Linked DNA regions of Homo sapiens. The protein of the gene in region 2 purifies or fractionates together with the protein of the main gene of each other region. This does not show direct contact. Each region holds a gene or a part of one and is shown on either strand. Other genes may lie near its edges.

Region 1 (3,500 bases), on a different chromosome or scaffold from region 2:
TTGACAACATGAATGGAACAGAAAGTGAACTTGGGGGCCAGTGAGGCCTTGTAAAGAACATCACTAACATCCTGTTCCAATCCACTCAGAAGCTTTTGAGGGCAAGCACTACTGTCTGCTTCACTGGCCTAGGAAGACAGAGCATAAGCTACAGTGGAAGGCAGAGGGAGAGGCCTCACTCAACAGGCAGCAGAATTTGTGTGCGCACGACTCTTCTCCCCACCGCCACACACATGAAATGCTTCCTGCCCCCTGCCCTTTACTCTCACTAGGTCCTTTTCAAGGATGGAAGAGCCTGCATCTGACTGGACAGAGGCGGAGATGTTCACTGGGCCACATTTTATCACAGGGCAGTGGGCCGAGATGGTCCTTGTGCTCGTGGTTCCAGCTCTTCGGCCTGCTCTTTGGTCCTGCCCATCACAGATCTGAAGGGCAGGGGTGCAGAAGGAACCACAGGTAGGGCCCTGGTCTGATCTGCAGGTTCCATCACGACTGATCAGAGACGGCAGGAACAGGCACCTAGCTCCTGAGAACACAGTGGCTCATTTCCTAAACAGCTTTTGTTACTCAGGTGTGTGCTTCCTTGAGTGCAAAGCCAAGCACCTTAACCGAACCTCCCACCTCATCAGTATTGTTATTAATGATGATGAAGACACTGGGCGCAGTGGCTCACGCCTGTAATCCCAGCACTTTGGGAGGCTGAGTCAGGCAGATAACCTGAGGTCAGGAGTTTGAGACAAGCCTGGCCAACATGGTGAAACCCCGTGCCTACAAAAATTAGCCAGGCATGATGGTGGGTGTCTTTAATCCCAGTTACTAGGGAGGCTGTGGCAGGAGAATTGCCAGAACCTGGGAGGCAGAGGTTGCAATGAGCCCATATTGTGCCACTGCACTCCAGCCTGGGTGACAGAGACTCCGTCTCAAAAAAAAAAAAAAAAAAGATGATGAAGACCTACAAAGTATGTCTGTTGATTAGGTACATGATACAAGTCTAGGAAGAATAGCTAATGAGTTAAATGACTGATCAAAATTGAAAAAAATGCCGGGCAAGGTGGTTCAAACCTGTAATCCTAGCACTTTGGGTCAACCAGGTGGGTGGATCAATTGAGCCCAGGAGTTCAAGACCAGCCTGGGCAACATGGTGAAACCCTGTCTCTACAAAAAAATACAAAAACTAGCTGGGCATGGTGGCACGTGCCTTTAGTCCTAGCTACTTGGAGGGCTATGTGGGAGGATCACTTGAACCTGGGAGGTTGAGGCTGCAGTGAGCCAAGATCGTGCCACTGCACTCCAGCCTGGGTGACAAAGTGAGACCCTCTCTCAAACAAACAAACAAACAAACAAAACCAAAAAAAAAAAAAAAATCCTGATGTAATGAAACATCAGGGTGAGAAAATATGTGTAAAGCCTTGTACCAAAGTTAACACAAGTACAGATGGGGAACAACTAGTGACTTGAGACAACTAATGTAAAACATACTTTGTATTTTAAATGTTTGACTATAAATTCAATGAGTCATGAGTGGGTGCCATCCTTAATTCCTCCTCACTTCACCCTTTCTGGGACAGCACCCTCTCACCACCCGAGTCCAGGCCACCAGCATTACTGCCACAGCTTTCGCATTTCTAATGAGTCCTTCTCACTGCTGCCAGAGGGATTTTTTAAAAAACACAAATGGGATGTTGTCAAGGGCTCTTCAATTGCTTTAGGAAGACCAAACTCTTCACTGTGGCTTAGAAGGAATTTTCTCACCAGGCCTTGCTAGCTTCTCTCCAGGCCCATTCTCTAGATTCTCATCCCTGCTAAGTGACACCCCAGACATAGTGAACCGCTCATTTGCTGCAATGTGCAACCTCAACAGAAATAATTTTTAAAAGAATAAGCATTGTCAGAACACAGACTGGGTCCCCCCATAATGTGGGGGGTGAGGGAGATATCCCTGAGATTGAATGTGCTTAGTAGAGGCTGTATGATTCTGACTCAGGAACAATATTAGGAGGTTTCCTATACTGAGAGGAAGTTGACCTAGGGGACTGCTAGTGTCCCTTTTTAGTATGAGTTTCCGGACAGCTCTGCTTTTTAATAGACCTGAGGGCTTTTTTCTTTAAAAGATTTCCTTATTACTGAATATTAGACTGTAAGTTTCTTGTTTGTATAATTTCTCAAATTCTACTGCTTTATTTTATGTAGTCAGCAATGAGGCAATCCCTTCTTAGGGACACTCATATTGGGTCCACCTCAGAACCTTGACCTATCTGCCCTGCCTGGGGCACTGGGAAGGAGAGGGTGCCCCCCCCGCCTGGGGCACTGTGCAAAGGCTAGGCTAGGGGGACTGTATTCAGGAGAAAGTGCAAGGGTGTGAGCTGTCTGGGAATAACATGGAGGCTCAGATCACATTGCTTTTCTAGTCTTGGGAGAAGCTAATGACTGCTTAGACACCAACGGGCTGGGCAATCCTGGAAATGCATATGTATTTATATACCTTTAAGTATGTACTTATACTATGCAAACGTACTCTTTGGACCGTATAAGTCAAAGACAAGGTCCAAACACCTTCTTGCCTTCCCAACGTCCCCATTTACACACACATCTTTTCATGCTGTCTCTGTCTCTCACCACCCAGGACCTTTTGAACTCACCTGGCCTCTCTCCTCCAGTTCTGTTAGCATCACGATAGAGCAGGATTTCCACTCCCAGATCATTCGCCAGAAGTCCTCAATTGTGTGGAGAAGAGGGCCCTGGCTGGCGATATAGGAGTCCTTCTGCCGGTAGCCCTGCACAGGCCAGGTTAATTGCAAGGGTGAGATGGTTTAATCACAGAGGGACTAGTGGAGAAGACAGACCACTAGAAGGGAATGGGGACTGCTCGGAGGCAAACTCAGCCCATGCAGAGCTCCCCTGTGGCCAAGGACGAAACCCTATCTGACAAGCTGGTTGCTTTCTGTAAGAGACAGGGAAGTGGAACAGGGATTAGAGCTAGGATGAAGAGGGCAGGAATGGGAAAGATCAGGGGGCAGCCAGGTTCCTCTTGGCTGTGGTCTGCTCTGTGAACTTTTTCTTCCAGGTATTATACTACTGCATGCCATCTGTTTTCCCCCACCTTCTGCTCTATGGAGCTGGACAGACCTAATGCACAGGGTGAGTGGGTGGGTGAGTATCAATTCACTATTTGTTGACTGATTCAAACATGATCCTCCCCAGCAGGTATGGGAGGGAGGCACTGCAAGTGCTGGCTGAATCTCCACGGGGTGTTGGGGGCTCAGGGGTCACACCCACCACTTACATCAATAAAGGATGCGTTCACATAGTCTGTATTCTCTTCGCCCCGCTTAACTGGAATGATCACTCTGTTGAATTCATCTGTAAGAAGAATAGCGGCTTATGGCTAGCCAATATCATTTGTCCTCTCCCTCTCCTTGCATTGCTCCCACCTCAGGCCCTGGGCAGACAGAATCCCAGCTGGGCAAGGACATGTCTGTTCCTAGCTCATTAGGGAGAAA
Region 2 (5,779 bases):
AGTAAAACTCTGTCTCAAAAAACAAACTAAAAGGCATATTTCTATGGCTATTTTATATTTATATTAATCATATTTATATTTTATATTTATACTAATCATTTCTAGACTTAAAGCTAAGTCTTCCTAGGTTGTAAAAATGCTTACCTACTGAGGGACGAAAGTACTATCCCAATAGTGGATTTTGTGATGGACTAGAGATTGTGGCAGGGGCGTAGTAGGGTCTGGTCAGCCCCCAATGGGCTACAAGGACCTCTCCTTACAGGTATTGAGTCAAGAACACTGGGCATCAGTGGAGGATGTGCCTGTAGCTCATGTTCCTGGATCCAAGCATGTGCAGTTTCTTTATAAGTAGTTTTTAAATTGTGGAACATAACATGTACTCAAAAGTGTATAAAGCAAAAGTACAGCTTAATTATTTTCATCACTAGTTAACAAACATCCTTACAATCACCACCTGGGTCAAGAAACAGAGCATTGCCAGAACCCCAGAGGCTTGTCCCTGTCCCTTCCCAGTCACCATGTGGTCCCACCCTCAAATACAATCACTTTCTTATTTTTCCTGTATACATTTACCACCTAAATATGCATCCAAAATACCATTGGCTACTTTTGCTTTTGAAAAACTTTATCTACAATGGAATCCATAGCACATACCCTCTTGAACAGGCTCCTTTTGCTGCCATGTTTGTGAGACTCATGCTCCTTGTGTGTAGGTGTCACTGTGTAATTGTCATGGCTGTATGGCGTTCTACCCAATGGCTATCCTTGCATTTTTTAACATCCATTCTCTTCCTGATGGGTATGTCGGCTGATTCCAGTTTGGTGCTATGGTGAGTATTTGGCTGTAAAGATTCCTGGCCATGCTCCCTGGTACACATGACGGCCATATCCAGGCCCTGATGTGGGACTGGCAGGTTAGAGGACTGTGTGTCTTCTTCTCCAACAGTTGATGCCAAGCCATTTTCCAGGTTGGTTCCATCAATTCGCATTGTTACTAGCAGTGTATGCAAATCTCCCTCCCACAGTCACCTTTGACACTGGTGCTATCCATCTTTCTAACTTCTGAGGCTCAGATGAGGGTGCCGCAGTGACTCCTTTGGGTGCTGATTTGCATTTCTCTGGTAAGTGAAAAGTGGAGCACTTTTTGATAAATACCTTGCTCCCCTGCATGTCATCTTCTGTGAAGTGTCTGTTCACATCTCATACCTTTTTTTATTTAACTGAGCTGCTCTAATTCTTTTATTATTTGCAGGAATTCTTTCAGGTATAAGCCTGTGATTTATTTATTTTTGTATAAGGCATGGTAGGCAGAATAATTCCCTGCCCCCACCACTGCCCCGCCAAAAATGTCCTGCCCTAATACACACAAAGTCAGAGCCTGCAAATACCTTCCATGGCAAAAGAGACTTTGCTGATGTGGTTAGGGATAGAGACCTGGACATGGGAGAGGATCCCAGATCATCCAGGTAGGCCTAGTCTAATCCCATGAGTCTCAGGAGTGGAGACCCTGTCCCATGGGGCTTGGGGGGAGAGGGGACAACGGATGAAGGGTCAGAGAGATGTGGTGCTGCTGGCTTTGGGGTTGGGGGAAGGAGTCCGGGCCAATGAATGCCAGTGACCCCTGGGGCTGGAAAAGGCAAGGAAGCAGGTTCTCCCCTAGAACCCTGGAAGGAGCCACCACTGCTGAGTCCTGCCTGCTGGCCCAGTAAGGCCCAGGGACTCCAGATCTACTGAGCCAGGAGGTGGCGAGTTCTTGTTGTTTCAAGCCACTCCATTTGTGGTGACTGGTTGCGGCAATAGTAGAAAACTAAAGATTTGTGTGCCGCACGTTGATTCTGCCCCTCTGGCCTTCCTTTGGTTCCCTTAGTGTCCTTCGGTAAGTGGGAGCTCTTGATTTGAATGGAGTCACACTTGCCACATTCCCTTTGATGCTTCTTAGGTCGTGGTTGAGAAATCTCCCCTGGCCTGGGAGCTGGAGAAGCCCCTTCTCCATCATCTCCTAGAAGCCTTGTGCAGCTTTTCCCACTGAGGTCCGCGGTCCCCTCTAGCTGAGGTCTGTGTGTGGGAGGAAGGCCTCTTCGGAATCTTCTCTGTGCAGGTGGCTGACCAGGCGCTCACTTAGTGAGTGCTAAGTGTTTATCTCTTCCCAGCAGCCAGCCAGCCCAAAGCATGAACTCTGCCGTGGTGGGAAGCAGAAAAGTTCCTACTAAACTTTCCCCCTTTTTAGTAAGTGTTTTCTGGACCCCAAAGTGACCTTTTTCAAGAAGTGTGAAGTGTTGTGAGTGAGGCATGGGGGGATGGGGGAGGCTTGGGGGTGGAGGTGAGGATCGCCCTGTGTCAATTACTGGAGGTGGAAAATCCTCGCAAAAGTCACTCAACCTCCCTGAACATCGGTAGTGCCATCTGCTAAATAAGGGTCCTGACTCTTCCCGACTTACCAAATTCCAGGGAAAGACCTGCCGTGCAACAGACACAGGAAAGTGATCAAAACCACTGGTGTTCAAGAAACACACATTGAAACTGGTAAAACTTTTCTGTCCCAAAGTAAACATATTTAGAAACATAATTCTCCCTCTGGTGAGGTTGTGGGCATGTGGCGGCTTGACTGAGCTGGGGGCAAAGGGGCAGCTGTGGGCGTCATGGGAGTGTGTCTGGCTGGGGAAATGGGGTGACTTCCACGACGCAGCGCTTGTGGGTGTGGCCTCCCCACTAGCAGGTGCATGTGGAGGGGTCCTGGCCCGTCTAGGCGGGCCGCACCTTCATCTCTGACACCTTGTAGCTATATTTGTACCCCTTCGCCGCACTCCAGTTGATACCATTGGCATAGCTCTCATGGGGTCCCATGAGGTAGAGACCATTGAGGTTTGAAGCATGACAGTCGGCGTACCACCAGGCTCCTTGGAACTTCTCAGCACAATTCGAAGAACTCACATCATTGTCTTGGTCTTTGGTGGAGAAGAAGTTGTTGTTGTGGCCCGTTAGAGAATTACCTGCTCACAGAAAATGTGGGGTTTGCAGATGCTGGAAAAAGCCCTGCCACTGTGAGACCCTCACCACATCCTGCCTCTGAGCAGAGCCAACCTCACTTTAGCGACGCATGAGCCGAGCTACAGGTGCACAAATGACCCACCCAGGCCTTGGAGGAAGGGGAAGCAGGAGGCAACCTCTGGCAACCTGGTCTGGAAATCTCTCTCCACAACCTGAGGCCCCTGCTCCAGCAACCACCTGTTTCCTCCAGGGCTCCCGCAAACTGTCAGGCCTCCTGCTCTCTCCTGGAATGACCTCCCTCCTCCAGCCTGCGCCGCTCCTTCCGGTCTCTCCCCACGTCCCCTGGTGGCCCTTGGTAGGTTCAGGACAGCCCTCACCTGGGGGCTTCTCCTCTATCTCAAGCCCTGAGCCGGAAGCTCATCCCTGGCTCCTATAGCTGAGAAATGTCACCCCCTGAGCCTCGGTTTTACCACCTGCAAAATGGGGGTGACCTTCCCTGCCCTGCTGCCTTCCTTGGAGGTCATGCGTGAGATCGTGCCTGTGAAAGGACTGCACAGACTCCAAGGCTGTCATTTCCAAGGCTCCCCTGGGACTGCCTTGCTCCATGGAGCAGTTAGTTACACAGACTTCCAGCTGCAGCAATTCTCAGTGCCTTTCACGAACGATGTGCACTGGGAATTCCCTAAGCAGACGCCCTGTAGGAAATGCCTCCCCAGATCGTGTAGCCAGAGACTCCTTTTGGTAAAGAATGTCCCACAAGGCTGGTGTTCCATGGAGCACAGTTTGGGAAACAGCTCCAAGGCACCCATGAGAAAAGGACGACGTCTTCCAGGTTTCAGCAGTGATGCTGGTGGGTCGTCTCAGCCCTGCCCAGGCAGCTCACTGTGCGGCAGACATAGCCTTAGGAATACCAGCCGCTATGTCCTGTGAGCCCCACGCTGTACAGAGACACAAATGCTAGTGTCTGCTTCATAGATGGAGAAATGGGATTCAGAGAGAGGAGGGCCCAAGGTCACCAGGGGAGACAGAGCCAGGTTCTCTCTGCTTTCCAAGCCCCACTCAGGCCACCAGCCCCAAGCAGACACTCACCCGCACTGCCCCCGACAAAGGCTCCCAGTACCAGCTTGTACTTCTCTGCCTCGTCAGCCACCTTGAATGATTTGTACTTAGCAAACTGGTGGTTGCCCTCAAAGTCCACCAGGTCTACACGGAGCTCGCTGCTTCCTGTTGGAAAAAGATTTTAAGGCCCCAGCCTTTAAGATCTTTCTGTCACCAGGCATGAGGGCTGGGGATGGGTAATTTTTTTTTTTTTTTTTTTGAGACAGAGTTCCGCTCTTGTTGCCCAGGCTGGAGTGCAATGGCACCATCTCAGCTCACTGCAACCTCCGCCTCCTGGGTTCAAGCAATTCTCCTGCCTCAGCCTCCCCAGTAGCTGGGATTACAGGTGTGTGCCACCACACACAGCTACTTTTTTTTTTTTTTGTATTTTTAGTAGAGATGGGGTTTCACCATGTTGGTCAGGATGGTCTCGATCTCTTCACCTCATGATCCACCAGCCTCAGCCTCCCAAAATGCTGGGATTACAGGTGTGAGCCACGGTGCCCGGCTGGGGATGGATATATTCTTAAGGGATGTCTGAACGTGGCATCCAGGAAAAAAATCAACCGGAAATGTCAGAAAATCCCTTGTTGCTATCAGGCCCTCAGGGATGGCTTTCTGTTTCTAAACACCTTTCCCGTTATTTCAGAGAACTGAACATGCCCCACTGGAGTTCACTGGGTGGAAGGGAGCATTCTTTCATTTTGAAAGTGTACCTTCTCCTTCTAAGGGTTGGTGAGCCACTAACACAGCAGTGGGCGAAGCTCTAATTGTAGTTTCTTTTGCAGGAATTTGAGGCACCTGAGTGGATTCCTTCAATCATGCCACAGGGCAGTGGGCAGGGATAATGGACCAGCAATTATACAGACTGCCTCAGGACCAGCTGTGAAACTCATCCCCTGCCCCAGAGGGTTGGGGGGAGGCCCTCTCACTCAGGTGAGTGCGGCTGTGGGGGGCCTGCTGAGGCGTGGGCTGGAGGAGGCGAGCGTGGGCTCTCCATGGGACTAAGATGCCAGCTTCAGAGGCAGATCAACAGCTGGAGATGGGGGAAGGCTACCCCAAGCCCCAGTGGTCTCTCTCCTGCTTCCCACTCTCAGGATCTAAGATGCCAGTAGGACCAAGACCTGAAGAGGCCTTCAGCCCAGGGCTCTAACCGTTTCCCTTCCCGATGTTGCCAGAGCCTGCGGCAGGGGACGCAGCCCTTAGAGGTCCCAGTGCCACCTGAGTGTGCTCAGGGCCCAATCCCCTGTGGGCCAAGAGGTGCTTATGTTGCAGATGGCCCAGGCCTAAGGGGCAGGAGCACCTCAGGGCCCCCCAACCCCTGAGCCACGGCAGTGGCCCTACCCTGGGCAGTCAGGGCGTGGATGTTGTCATTCCCCAGCCAGAACTCCCCCAGCTGACTGCCGAAGCCCTGCTTGTATGCGGCCCAGTCCCGATAGAAGTCCACAGAGCCATCCATCCTCCGCTGGAAAACCTGTGAAGAAGCCAGGATACAGAGTTAGGCGGGGCAGGCCGAGGTCCCACAGCACCGGGGACCCGCCCTCCAGAGGAGCAGCATTTGTAGTTGGCAGAGCATCACAGGCCGGTGCCACACGCACGCCCATCTGGTCTCCTCACAGACTCCACAGGATGAAAGAGGAAATGCGGTCTCAGAGAAGAGAGGCAACAAGCCCCAAGCCACACAGCAGGAGAG
Region 3 (3,500 bases), on a different chromosome or scaffold from region 2:
AAATTGCTTTGTCGTGGCTGGTTGTTAATTTGCTTGCAGTTAAAACTGTCACCACGAAGTGGCAGTATAATGTTGTTAAACTGCTCAGTGTAAAGCGGTTATAGTAGAGAAAAAATTACATTATTCACTTTTTATAATTCAGTACCTTATGAACACAAGCTGTGCAACAGTGTTAGGTGGTTATATTATATAATTTTGTGAAGGTAAAAATTCTTCATATTTTTAGTTATGATTTGTGGGATCAGACGATGCAGGACCACAAAGGAGTTAAATCTGTTCCAACCCTTTCATTTGACATATACTCAAATTCAGAGGTTGTCATTTGCGTAAAGTTATATGGATCTGAAAATTTCTGGAACCAGAATTAATATCTTAGTTTCCCCATTCCTGGTTGGTATAATGAATAATTAAAATACTAATCACAGCAGTGGTGATAATAATAATAGCCTAAAATTCACTATGCTCTTCCTGGGTTTCAGGCACAGATTATTTTATTTACTTCTCCAGGCAGCCCACAAGGTCAGTGTTACTGTTGTTCCCGTTTTACAGATGAGGAAACCGAGGCTCAGTGAGTTAAAGTAATGTGTCCAGCATCACCCAGCAGGCAAGCTAAAATTAGACTAATAGCTCAGAGCAGCACTTCTTGTTTTCCTAAGATACCTTATGTGAGTAAAACCCCCAGACTTGAGCCCCAGTTTAGTATGGTGGTAAGAACAAGCCGAGTCTTAGACCCAGGCAGCCCTGCATTTGTGCCTTCCAGGTCATGTACCTTGTGTAAGCTCTTTAACATCTCTGTGTCTGAGTTTCCTCACCTGCAAAATGGGGTGATGATCATGCCTGCCTCCAGAGTAGCATGGAAAGCCCTGGCACACGGTTGGCATTTGTTAATTGGAATTCTTGTTATTGTTGTTGATGTTGTTGTCATCTGTATGGGCTCAGATTTTCCCACGGATCAACTTAGAAACTGCAAGGTACAGTGACTCTGCAGTGCCCAACATGGAGATGCAGAGATGTAAACCAGTGCCCAGAGCATGCAGTGCAGAGCATGGCTCCTGCCTCTGACCCTGTCATTGCAGACCTGGGCAGGCTGCTTTCCCTCCTTGTCCACCCACTTCCTCACTGGGAGACAGTGGGGTTGGACTGGATCACCCAGTATCTTTCCAGACCTAGAGCTGAGTATCTACTCAAGTGTCAGTGATATACATAAAATCAAAGGTCTTCTGCCTCTCATCACCCCAAGAACAGATGACCATCTGATTTTTCCAGTTCATGACTTCTTTGTTGTGTAAGTCAGCTTTAACACTACTTAGTTTTTTTGGCACCTAGCCTCATCTTGGGTAATATCAGTGAAAAGCTGAGTTTGATCGACTAGTTATGCATTTTAACATGTTCACAATTATAAAACCATTAAAAATAAAAGTTGATCACCCATGGACCACCTAATGTCAACTTTATGCCATACATTGGAAAACTCCATAGCATAGATGAGTAAAATCCTCAGAGGGTGACAACCAGGGCCTCATTCCCAATCTCAATTACTGATGCTTCTCTGCTTTTTCTTCTTCTGCCTCTTTTCCACCCTTGCCGGGTGACCCTTTCCAGCCCACAGCGTCTCCTGCCTCTTCAGCCGACATGGCCCCCATCAGCTCGGGGTCTTCTACCTGGACGTCCTCTGGCATCCCATTCTCATTTGTTTCCATGGCAACTGGGATGGGCCCCTCCTCCAGTGGCAGCCAGGCCACAGTGGCCTCGGTGGTCACCAGCACGCTGCTCGCCGGCCTGGGGTTCGGCGGTGGTGGCATCTCCTCTTTCCCCAGCACTGTGTGGCCCACGCGCCTCCCGACGGCCGCCTCAGCCAGCAAGCAGGCGGCTAGGCCAGTCCTAGCCACCACAGAGGCCTTGGCTTCTCCAGGGCCCGATGGTGATTCGTCACCAACCAAGGACGGCGAGGGCACCGAGGAAGGAGAGAAGGATGAGAAAAGCGAGAGTGAGGATGGGGAGCGGGAGCACGAGGAGGATGGAGAGAAGGACTCCGAAAAGAAGGAGAAGAGTGGGGTGACCCACGCTGCCGAGGAGCGGAATCAGACGGAGCCCAGCCCCACACCCTCGTCTCCTAACAGGACTGCCGAGGGAGGGCATCAGACTATACCTGGGCATGAGCAGGATCACACTGCCGTCCCCACAGACCAGACGGGCGGAAGGAGGGATGCCGGCCCAGGCCTGGACCCCGACATGGTCACCTCCACCCAAGTGCCCCCCACCGCCACAGAGGAGCAGTATGCAGGGAGTGATCCCAAGAGGCCCGAAATGCCATCTAAAAAGCCTATGTCCCGCGGGGACCGATTTTCTGAAGACAGCAGATTTATCACTGTTAATCCAGGTAAGTGGTGCAGGTCTTCTTCGAGGGTTCCTGCTCCTGTGAATAGTCGTACCCTTTTTCAAAAAATTGGGAGCAGAAGGTGAAGCTTCAGAAGGTACTTAATATTCTTAGAATCATATATGTCTGTCATAGAAAAGGTGCACACATGTGAAATGTGTATGTGTGTGTCCCTGTTTTACTCCAAAAGCCTACTCTCTTACGCTGGAGTAAGTCTTTCTTTGATATTTGTTTTCTTGCCTCGGAATAACTCCAGGGACTTCAACCAGGCAATGATATACATGAATAAAAAAAGCCATCGATCTTAAGAAGTTTATTTATTAAGATTTCATTCCATATTCATTATATAATGTATCTACAAATGGCTAGTTTGGTGCCAGGGACTGGGCAGGGTGCTGTCCCAGGGGATCCTAGTCCCTGCCTAAAAAGTTTAAAGGGGAAGGCAGACAGATGACAAGACAGTAGCTAGCTGGAGCGCATGCCCAGAAGTTAGGTAGCAGGAACGTTAGAAAGCCAGCAAGCTAGATGGTGGTTAGTCGGCAAGCTAGATGGTTAACTGGCAAGCTGGAAAACTAACTAACTGAAGTTTTCGATTGTGAAATGGTAATAGAGGAAATAAACAGGATGCTGTCCAAGAGAATTATGGAGAGGATAGGGACCTACCTTAATTAAGAAAGGCCACTCTGGAGAAGTGGCTTGTTCATGGAAACCTACAGAATGAAAGGCTTCAGCCTGGGGAGAGCTGGTATTGGCCCATGGTCCTTGCCCAAGAAATACGGCCCTCTCTCCCAGAGCTCCCATTGCTGTGGGAATGAGCCAGTGTATAGACAGTGAGGCCAGGGCATGAGATCCTCATCTCCTGGTGGCAATTTTGTTGCTCTATCATATGCTCAAATCTTAATGAACCATCCTGATAGTTTCTGCAAGGGAGCCATAAGCATGAGGAGTTGTTATTGTTGTGAGGGCTTTTCTTAATAAGAAATTCTTCATTTTGCCAGACTACAAGATGTTTAGCAACAATTTTTTTTGCGTCTAAGCTGTTGTGGAGTTATAAGAGTGCAAAAAAAAAGCAACTGGTAAATATTTATTTGCTTTTGCACTTGTAAACATTAAAATTCATCTA
Region 4 (3,500 bases), on a different chromosome or scaffold from region 2:
AGGAAGCTGAGGTGGAAGGATCACCTGAGCCCAGGAGGTCAAGACTGCAGTGGGCCTTGATCGCACCACTGCACTCCTGCCTGGGTGATAAGAGTGAGACTCTGTCTCAAATAATAATAAATGTAAACCAAATCCCACCATTCATCCCCTTAAAAAGCTATCAGTGGCTCCCCATTGTACTCAAGAGAAGTCCTCAGCAGGGACCCTGCTCATCCATTGAGCCTTGGGTCACTCACCCCTTACTCTGTGGGAAGGTGAACCTGTCCATCATGTCACCTTCTTCTACCTCCTCAAATGCTCTCTGCTCCTTCTAGCAGCTGGGTCTGCACCAGTTTTGTTCCTTTGCCTGGAATGCTATTTCCTGCAGCTTTATCTGGCTAGCTCCCACTTATCCAGGTCTCAGCTTAAGTGTTTTTCTTCATAAAGGCCTTTTATGAGCATATTTTATGTATTTGTGAGTTTGCTTAATGTCTGTCTGACATAAGCTACACAAGAGTGAAGTCTGTCCGTTTGATTCACCACAATATAAGCAGTGTCTGGCACAGGGCCTGGCACATAGTGGTCCCGCTCCATATCCACAGATGAATGAGACAGCCCCTGCCCTCAGGGATTTCACTGATGGGTGGGGAGACAGGCAAACATAACTAATCATGAGACAGCGAGAGAAATGCCGACCCAGGCATGTGAGAGAAAGGTGAGCACAACTTGAGGAGGTTAAGGGAGGGATAAGAAAGAGCTTTCTAGGGCTGGGTATGGTGGTGCATGCCTGTAGTCCCAGCTGCTTTGGGAGGCTGAAGCAGGAGGACCACTTGAGCTCAGGAGCTGGAGGTTGCAGTGAGCTATGACTATACCACTGCACTCCAGCCTGGGTGACAGAGCAAGACCTTGTCGCCACATTTTTAAAAAAGAAAGAGATTACTGGATGAACCAGAAGAACTTGTTTAGAAAAGAGGGAGATCAGCAAAGAGAAAGATTCCAGAAAAGCAAACTGATGTAAGCTCACAAAGGCCACATCTACCAGACCAAAAGTTCTAGCTTTTTGTGCTAGAAATAGTAAGTCATTGAAGAATGTCAGGGGGTGAAAAACATGATCAGAGTAACATGATAAAAACCTTGGCTGCAGTGTGAGGGGTGGGTTTTGCACATTTCACCTCCAGGCCCTCATTCTCAATATTCCTGGGTGAAATGCCCCGCCCGCCCTCACTGCTCTGGTTTCCTGGGCTCATTTCAAGCCCCACCACCTCCAGTCTCCACCTTGACAGTGTTGGTGGATCGAGCTGCTTGGTGCAGAGTCCAGACTGCTGTGAGCCTGTTCTCTTCTGCTACTGTGTGTCTTTTCTCCCTCACTAGACTGAGAGCACAGCCTGTGTCTGATGACTCCCTATACCCCCATAGCCTCTCCCTAACACAAAGCTTTAAGCATGAAAAGTGTTTAATAAATGCTTTATATAAAAATAGTTCTACTTGCAGAGTGTTTAGGAATCGCTTTATAGAGTCTAGCTCTCATAAACCAATGATACCTGTCCCATGGCATCCATGATGAGTGAAACCCTCGCCAGGTGACCCAGCCCAGCGGAGGAAGGAAGGCCTACTACCTGCCCTGATCTCCCAGTGCCATCACTCAAAGTCATCTTACTGTTTGTGCAAGGAAATGCCCTCCTATCTGCCCTAAGACACTGACAGAAGCTGAGGACTTGCCAAATGATAAAGATAGGAAGACAGGAGAACAAGGCTGGCTGAAAGGTGGTCAGCTGGCAGACACGGGCCTGGGTCTCATCTCTGCCCATAAAGCACAGACTGGTCAGCAGTAAGAGACAAGTCCAAGGTCCCTGACCCTGACTACCTGGGGCAGTTGGAAAAGCGGAACTCCAGGTGGGAAACATGAGGAGAATGCCCAGGCAAAGGAAAACAACAGGCCCAGCACCCCCGCCAAGCGGAAGTAGCACGCGAAGTGGGTCCTGGAGGCATTTTGTCCAGTGCAGCTCAGGGCAAATCTGACCCTCAGTCTTCATCAGGCAAAAGGGAACAAAATGCTTTGCAAGCACAGTGGGCTGTTAGTGACACACTCAGGAGGGGCTAGTGACAGCAGCCTTCCACAGAGAGAGTGCACAGACCTAGAAGCTCTGGCACCCAGGGCCCCTACCTGCTCGGGAGGTTGGCTTCAGCTCCAGGCTTTCCTGATCCGTGGCATCCAGGATCTTGTACTTGCTTTTCCTCTTGGGTTTTCCTTTTTGCCTAAAAAACACAACCCCCACCCCTGCTCAGGAAAGAGGTTCTCTGGGAGGATGAGGATGAGAGCCAGATGTGCATGCAGGGCCCTATTTTGGTGGGGCACCTACTGAGAGGGGTGTCCTCTCCTCACTTCTCAGCCAGGAAAGGTGGCAACTGTGATTTGTTCCTCAAATGTTCCTCAGCAATTCTGGAGAAGGGCAAGGGAGCTATGACCACCTTGGCACGGACTCACCATCCCACAGGGGCAATGAAGGACAGATTGGTTAAAAACGTAAAGAAAACAAAATCCTCTGCTTGAAGGGTGTGGGAGGAGACAGGCATTACACTAACAAAGTTGGTAATGGTGGTTGTCTTAGACTGGTGGGAATTTTTAAAAATTCCTTTAGTTCTAAGTTTTATAAGAGGTTATACTGAAAGTTGAATCTCAGCTCTGTCACTATCAACTGGTCCTCAGACAGTGATGTACCTTTCCTGAGCCTAAGTTTTTTTATCTGTAAAATGGGAAAAGGTTATGTGTCTTAAAAATGATATTACCTATAAAAATATTATGGCACACAGTATACACAGAAATAATATTATTAATAATGAAAACATAAAATAAATGTAACCATTCCATCTTAGAAGACTCAATAGGAAGACTCAAATGAAAAAACACAGGACGCCTGAGCCTGGCTAGCCTAAAGTGCATGTGTGGAAACATGCACACTCATGAATCCCAACTAGAAAGAAGGCAGAATTAAAAACTCGCGGGCTATGCTGGTGAGGCTACAGTGTGGTGCATTAAAGAAAACACACCTTACAGATGTGATCCGGGTCTGTACCCCTGGCCCTCACGCTCACTCCCCCACCTTGCCCTGCTCCCGCCCAGCCATGTTTCCCAGGTTCCAAATCACTGCAGTGGCTGCCACTCACTGAAGGAGTGTGCCTCTGCCCTCAGGAGAGTCTCAGGGTGAGCAAAGCTGCCCGTGCATGCCTTAGGTGGGTCAGAACTCTCTAATGCTGACTAAGGACCCAGCCCAGTCCTTCCACGTGGAAGGTGCCAAATACCTCTCTGAGGAACGAATGTATGACAAGAAGCCCGAATGAATTTCAAAGGAAAATCCATCTTACCTCTTACAACAACAGATCACAGTCCAAGACAGGATTCCCAAGGCAACAACAATGACAAAGGTAGCAATGATAACATATAACACGCTCCACTCTGCCAAGAAAATCAAAATGGTGAGGGCTGTGGAGGGAGAGGCTGGGAGGGAGGTCTGGGCTGCTCC

What was found. Proteins that work in one complex are often made in the same cells at the same time.
Region 1: the proteins of FCN1 (region 2) and PTPRA purify together in Homo sapiens (affinity purification with mass spectrometry; 3 studies listed by BioGRID and IntAct, with this or other methods). This does not show direct contact.
Region 3: the proteins of FCN1 (region 2) and PTPRG purify together in Homo sapiens (affinity purification with mass spectrometry; 3 studies listed by BioGRID and IntAct, with this or other methods). This does not show direct contact.
Region 4: the proteins of FCN1 (region 2) and KIAA0319L purify together in Homo sapiens (affinity purification with mass spectrometry; 3 studies listed by BioGRID and IntAct, with this or other methods). This does not show direct contact.

What each region holds. Positions count from the first base shown.
Region 1 is NC_000020.11:3,026,981-3,030,480, reverse strand, and holds part of PTPRA (receptor-type tyrosine-protein phosphatase alpha isoform 1 precursor), read right to left. Parts: intron 3,361-3,500; coding exon 3,284-3,360; intron 2,775-3,283; coding exon 2,640-2,774; intron 1-2,639. UniProt on the Homo sapiens protein: Tyrosine protein phosphatase which is involved in integrin-mediated focal adhesion formation.
Region 2 is NC_000009.12:134,907,056-134,912,834, forward strand, and holds part of FCN1 (ficolin-1 precursor), read right to left. Parts: intron 5,561-5,779; coding exon 5,431-5,560; intron 4,213-5,430; coding exon 4,078-4,212; intron 2,991-4,077; coding exon 2,743-2,990; 3' UTR 1-2,742.
Region 3 is NC_000003.12:62,201,571-62,205,070, forward strand, and holds part of PTPRG (receptor-type tyrosine-protein phosphatase gamma isoform 1 precursor), read left to right. Parts: intron 1-1,602; coding exon 1,603-2,380; intron 2,381-3,500.
Region 4 is NC_000001.11:35,438,904-35,442,403, forward strand, and holds part of KIAA0319L (dyslexia-associated protein KIAA0319-like protein), read right to left. Parts: intron 3,434-3,500; coding exon 3,343-3,433; intron 2,236-3,342; coding exon 2,144-2,235; intron 1-2,143.